2 linked regions of the Homo sapiens genome follow. The protein of the gene in region 1 interacts with the protein of each later gene in a biochemical or structural test. Each region holds a gene or a part of one and is shown in the gene's direction. Other genes may lie near its edges. The genes, in order: PRDX6 and STH.

Region 1 (3,825 bases):
TTCCAATTTTAAATCCTCTTTTCCATTACTTGCTAAACTCTATCCAACTAAGTTCCTCACTCTCCTATCAATAGTTTATGTACAGAGTTGCCCACATGTTTCATTAATATCGTTCCTGGCCGGGCACAGTGGCTCTCGCCTGTAATCCCAACACTCTGGGAGGCTGAGGCAGGTGGATCACAAGGTTAGGAGTTCAAGGCCAGCCTGGCCAAGATGGCGAAACCCCGTTTCTACTAAAAATACAAAAAAAAATTAGCCGGTGTGGTGGCGGGTGCCTGTAATCCCAGCTATTCAGGAGGCTGAGGCAGAGAATTGCTTGAACCTGGGAGGCGGAGGTTGCAGTGAGCCAAGGTTGCGGTGAGCCAAGTTCGCACCAGTGCACTCCAGCCTGGGCGACAGCAAGACTCTGTCTCAAAAAAAAAAAAAAAAAAAAATTAGATATATATATTTATATATATATATATTTATATATATACACACACACACACATACATATATATACATATGCACACGTATATAATATATATACACATATATATATGTGTGTGTGCATATATATATATAGTTCCTGATTCCTAGAATGCCTTTCTTTTCTCTGTGAAAAATCTTACCCATCCTTCAAGGGCCTAGATAGAAGTCCTGTTCTTTTCTTGAAGCCTTTTGTAACTTTTGGAGTCCTACAAATGGGAGTGTTCGTATACTTCAGTATTTACCATCCACCATTTAACATTAGTCTTGCATTTGCTGCTGCTTCATACTGGAATCATCTCTAACCAAATGAGAAGTTCCTTTGAAGGGAGGAGCCGTGTCTTACTCATCTGTATTCCACATGTATTTACCATAATGCTTAGCCCACCTTAAGTGCTATATCAATGCTTAATCAAATAACAAAACTAGATTTTTTTTTTCTCCAAAAGCTTCCAGGGATAGGAAAAGTAGAAATAAATGGATGAATAAAGTTTTACTAGGGAAGGAGGGAAGTGTATCATTTTTCTTTAGTTCAGACTTGAAATGCTTTGTTTTCTCTTTGAATTTCACCCTAGTTTAGGTTTACTTCTGCCTCTTCACCCATTTATTTTTGACTTGTCCTTCAAGTATATATTCAACTCTCCATTCTTGTGTTTGCTTTGTTTTGTGATTTGTTTTTTTTTTTTTTGGTCATTTCTTATTTGTCTTGTAACTTAGCATCTGAGTCAGGGTGCTTTATGAGGTAGGGACCAGATCTATAAGATTTTCTTTACATATGGCATTATTTCTAGATGTGATGGATTTAACAAACCTATTGTTATCTGATGATTTTTACAGTATTTGGGTACCCAGAGGTACCTTGTATTTGGATCTAACTAAATTATTGCAATTTTAAAGGGGTTGCTGCTATTTTCTCATAGCAGTAAAAGCATGCTGAATTTAAGAGAACTGGGCATGAAAACAGCTTTGGTCCATGATTACAACCTAAGTACTGTACTCTGCTGTTATTCCTGGCAATAATTGGAATGAAGAGTGTTCATCTACTCACTTTTTAAAATTAAAATTGCTTAAAGAAAATTACTGTGATTTGGTCCTCTTTCCTGTCTTGCAAGGTGATGGCTGTTAACTGATGAAATTCAGAGCATGTGTTGGGTTTAGATTCCTCTTTCCCCTTTTACTTGTGTTTCAGGATATCAATGCTTACAATTGTGAAGAGCCCACAGAAAAGTTACCTTTTCCCATCATCGATGATAGGAATCGGGAGCTTGCCATCCTGTTGGGCATGCTGGATCCAGCAGAGAAGGATGAAAAGGGCATGCCTGTGACAGCTCGTGTGGTAGGTCATACAAATTCATTTTGTAGTTAGCTTAACTGATCAGGCTGTATGTCCGTGTAAATGCTGGTACCAGCTAGAGGAGATAGGGGAATATCTACGATTATGAAATAACTGTGTATTGGCGACAATATCACTGATTATCTGTAATGCTGATGCAATTTTCAGCTAAATTTTCCAACTGCTTTATTCATAGTTCATGGAAATCTACAAAAAAAAAGTTGTTTATCCTAAAATGTCTTCCAGAATTGAGAAACCTTTTCATAGCTCTCCTGACTGCTCTCCTGACCGCCCTGTCTTTAAAGTGATGGGCCATATCCTTCTTCATAAGGCAGCTCTGTTTTAAATTTTTATTTGTTCTGTCCTCCGCCCACTAGAAAACAAACCCAATCCCTCATCTGAATAAATGCACAACTATTCAAGGAACAATATCAACTCCCATTAGTATTATTTTTATGATAGTCATCCCCAATTGACACAGCCTTTCCCTCGATTAAATTTGCATATCAGTTTTTCTTACTGGGAAAGCCAGAACCAAATAGAATTCCCTTCTACGTTTAGAAAATAACAGGGAGAAGAAAATTATCTGTATTCCAGCCATCCACATTAGCAGTTGGTGTATCCTTCTAGATGCTTTGTTTTTGTCTTGTTTTTATACCCTTGAACATTATTAATGACTGCAGAGCTTTCTAAGTGGCTTTAATAACACTCAAAGAACTCTTCCTATTTATGCCCCTCTGTGCTTTACAGGTGTTTGTTTTTGGTCCTGATAAGAAGCTGAAGCTGTCTATCCTCTACCCAGCTACCACTGGCAGGAACTTTGATGAGATTCTCAGGGTAGTCATCTCTCTCCAGCTGACAGCAGAAAAAAGGGTTGCCACCCCAGTTGATTGGAAGGTAAAGATGTTTTTAAAAAGCAGTTTCTCTACTTGCCTGAAGGGCCAGTCTCTAAATGGCCAACTTCAAGGTCTGTGTTACCTGTTTCTAGCACGCAAGTACACTGGGAGGATTTTTCCTCATGGCTGAGTTCAAGATTTGCTGAAAGGCCCTTTTCAAGGTCTTTATAACACCTTTTATACACAACACAAACTCCCTATATGGCTTTCCAACTTTTAGATAATTTGGAAAAATTATTGGTCAGAATGATTCCTTTTCCTAATAGAAGGTTTAAAAAAAAAAATTTTATCTAACCCTTCCCTGATGGCAAAATATTTATCGCACAATCTTAATTGGCCATTTCCGTTAAGTCATGGCTGTAAAAGTACTGGTGTATTAATGTCATTAAGTATTTAATTTCTCTTAAGCTTCATTCTTTTAAACCTGTGCTAGAATTCTCCAAAATTTGTTCATAAACTTTTCATCTTTAGGACATGGATAACATCACAAGAGTATCTTAACATTGCTACATTTTTAAAATAATGCTAACCTGAATAGCAGGTTTTGTTTTGTTTTTTTCTGACAGACAAATCACTTAAATTCTGTATCCACTAGTTAACTTATTATTACTTATTTATGTACTTATTGAGCCCAGATAGTAGTGAACTGGGGAGATAGCAGTGAATAATAGAAAGTCCTTGCCCTCATAGAACTTCCATTCCAGTGAGTGGAGACAAACAGTAAACAAGTTTATTAAGTGGTGATAACAGGTGCTACAGGGAAGAATCAAGCACAGATGGGGAGAATAACAGCACAGGGGTGGGAGAGTGACTGTCAAGGAATGCCTGTCTATGAAGGGACCTTTGGAGAAAAACACAGAGAAGATGTGACCAAGGCATGTATACTTGTGAGGGACGAGCACTATAGGCAGAAGGAGCAGTTAGTGCAAGAAACTGGGCCTACAAGTGAGCTTGGCATGTTGGAGGAATACAAGGAAAGCTAGCATGCTTGGAGAAGAAGCTGCAGAAGGTGGGGTGAGGGACAAGAGATGAGAGGAGGCAGGATTCCATCACACAGGGCTTGCAGGCCATGATACTCAGAATTAAATGTAAAGTGTGGTGGCCAGCTGTTACTGGGTTTAAAACAGG
Region 2 (2,770 bases), on another chromosome or scaffold:
TGCACTCCAGTTTGAGCAACAGAGCGAGACTCTGTCTCAAAACAAAATAAAACAAACCAAAAAAACCCACCATGGCTTAGGGCCCAGCCTGATGACCTCATTTTTCACTTAGTCACCTCTCTAAAGGCCCTGTCTCCAAATAGAGTCACATTCTAAGGTACGGGGGTGTTGGGGAGGGGGGTTAGGGCTTCAACATGTGAATTTGCGGGGACCACAATTCAGCCCAGGACCCCGCTCCCGCCACCCAGCACTGGGGAGCTGGGGAAGGGTGAAGAGGAGGCTGGGGGTGAGAAGGACCACAGCTCACTCTGAGGCTGCAGATGTGCTGGGCCTTCTGGGCACTGGGCCTCGGGGAGCTAGGGGGCTTTCTGGAACCCTGGGCCTGCGTGTCAGCTTGCCTCCCCCACGCAGGCGCTCTCCACACCATTGAAGTTCTTATCACTTGGGTCTGAGCCTGGGGCATTTGGACGGAGGGTGGCCACCAGTGCACATGGGCACCTTGCCTCAAACCCTGCCACCTCCCCCCACCCAGGATCCCCCCTGCCCCCGAACAAGCTTGTGAGTGCAGTGTCACATCCCATCGGGATGGAAATGGACGGTCGGGTTAAAAGGGACGCATGTGTAGACCCTGCCTCTGTGCATCAGGCCTCTTTTGAGAGTCCCTGCGTGCCAGGCGGTGCACAGAGGTGGAGAAGACTCGGCTGTGCCCCAGAGCACCTCCTCTCATCGAGGAAAGGACAGACAGTGGCTCCCCTGTGGCTGTGGGGACAAGGGCAGAGCTCCCTGGAACACAGGAGGGAGGGAAGGAAGAGAACATCTCAGAATCTCCCTCCTGATGGCAAACGATCCGGGTTAAATTAAGGTCCGGCCTTTTCCTGCTCAGGCATGTGGAGCTTGTAGTGGAAGAGGCTCTCTGGACCCTCATCCACCACAGTGGCCTGGTTAGAGACCTTGGGGAAATAACTCACAGGTGACCCAGGGCCTCTGTCCTGTACCGCAGCTGAGGGAAACTGTCCTGCGCTTCCACTGGGGACAATGCGCTCCCTCGTCTCCAGACTTTCCAGTCCTCATTCGGTTCTCGAAAGTCGCCTCCAGAAGCCCCATCTTGGGACCACCGTGACTTTCATTCTCCAGGGTGCCTGGCCTTGGTGCTGCCCAAGACCCCAGAGGGGCCCTCACTGGCCTTTCCTGCCTTTTCTCCCATTGCCCACCCATGCACCCCCATCCTGCTCCAGCACCCAGACTGCCATCCAGGATCTCCTCAAGTCACATAACAAGCAGCACCCACAAGGTGCTCCCTTCCCCCTAGCCTGAATCTGCTGCTCCCCGTCTGGGGTTCCCCGCCCATGCACCTCTGGGGGCCCCTGGGTTCTGCCATACCCTGCCCTGTGTCCCATGGTGGGGAATGTCCTTCTCTCCTTATCTCTTCCCTTCCCTTAAATCCAAGTTCAGTTGCCATCTCCTCCAGGAAGTCTTCCTGGATTCCCCTCTCTCTTCTTAAAGCCCCTGTAAACTCTGACCACACTGAGCATGTGTCTGCTGCTCCCTAGTCTGGGCCATGAGTGAGGGTGGAGGCCAAGTCTCATGCATTTTTGCAGCCCCCACAAGACTGTGCAGGTGGCCGGCCCTCATTGAATGCGGGGTTAATTTAACTCAGCCTCTGTGTGAGTGGATGATTCAGGTTGCCAGAGACAGAACCCTCAGCTTAGCATGGGAAGTAGCTTCCCTGTTGACCCTGAGTTCATCTGAGGTTGGCTTGGAAGGTGTGGGCACCATTTGGCCCAGTTCTTACAGCTCTGAAGAGAGCAGCAGGAATGGGGCTGAGCAGGGAAGACAACTTTCCATTGAAGGCCCCTTTCAGGGCCAGAACTGTCCCTCCCACCCTGCAGCTGCCCTGCCTCTGCCCATGAGGGGTGAGAGTCAGGCGACCTCATGCCAAGTGTAGAAAGGGGCAGATGGGAGCCCCAGGTTATGACGTCACCATGCTGGGTGGAGGCAGCACGTCCAAATCTACTAAAGGGTTAAAGGAGAAAGGGTGACTTGACTTTTCTTGAGATATTTTGGGGGACGAAGTGTGGAAAAGTGGCAGAGGACACAGTCACAGCCTCCCTTAAATGCCAGGAAAGCCTAGAAAAATTGTCTGAAACTAAACCTCAGCCATAACAAAGACCAACACATGAATCTCCAGGAAAAAAGAAAAAGAAAAATGTCATACAGGGTCCATGCACAAGAGCCTTTAAAATGACCCGCTGAAGGGTGTCAGGCCTCCTCCTCCTGGACTGGCCTGAAGGCTCCACGAGCTTTTGCTGAGACCTTTGGGTCCCTGTGGCCTCATGTAGTACCCAGTATGCAGTAAGTGCTCAATAAATGTTTGGCTACAAAAGAGGCAAAGCTGGCGGAGTCTGAAGAATCCCTCAACCGTGCCGGAACAGATGCTAACACCAAAGGGAAAAGAGCAGGAGCCAAGTCACGTTTGGGAACCTGCAGAGGCTGAAAACTGCCGCAGATTGCTGCAAATCATTGGGGGAAAAACGGAAAACGTCTGTTTTCCCCTTTGTGCTTTTCTCTGTTTTCTTCTTTGTGCTTTTCTCTGTTTTCAGGATTTGCTACAGTGAACATAGATTGCTTTGGGGCCCCAAATGGAATTATTTTGAAAGGAAAATGCAGATAATCAGGTGGCCGCACTGGAGCACCAGCTGGGTAGGGGTAGAGATTGCAGGCAAGGAGGAGGAGCTGGGTGGGGTGCCAGGCAGGAAGAGCCCGTAGGCCC

The links.
Region 2: the proteins of PRDX6 (region 1) and STH form a complex in vitro, tested with the Homo sapiens proteins (one study listed by BioGRID).

The regions. Positions count from the first base shown.
Region 1 is NC_000001.11:173,483,704-173,487,528, forward strand, and holds part of PRDX6 (peroxiredoxin-6), read left to right. Parts: intron 1-1,657; coding exon 1,658-1,804; intron 1,805-2,551; coding exon 2,552-2,698; intron 2,699-3,825. UniProt on the Homo sapiens protein: Thiol-specific peroxidase that catalyzes the reduction of hydrogen peroxide and organic hydroperoxides to water and alcohols, respectively. Can reduce H(2)O(2) and short chain organic, fatty acid, and phospholipid hydroperoxides.
Region 2 is NC_000017.11:45,997,722-46,000,491, forward strand, and holds STH (saitohin), read left to right. Parts: upstream 1-1,528; 5' UTR 1,529-1,558; coding exon 1,559-1,945; 3' UTR 1,946-1,973; downstream 1,974-2,770.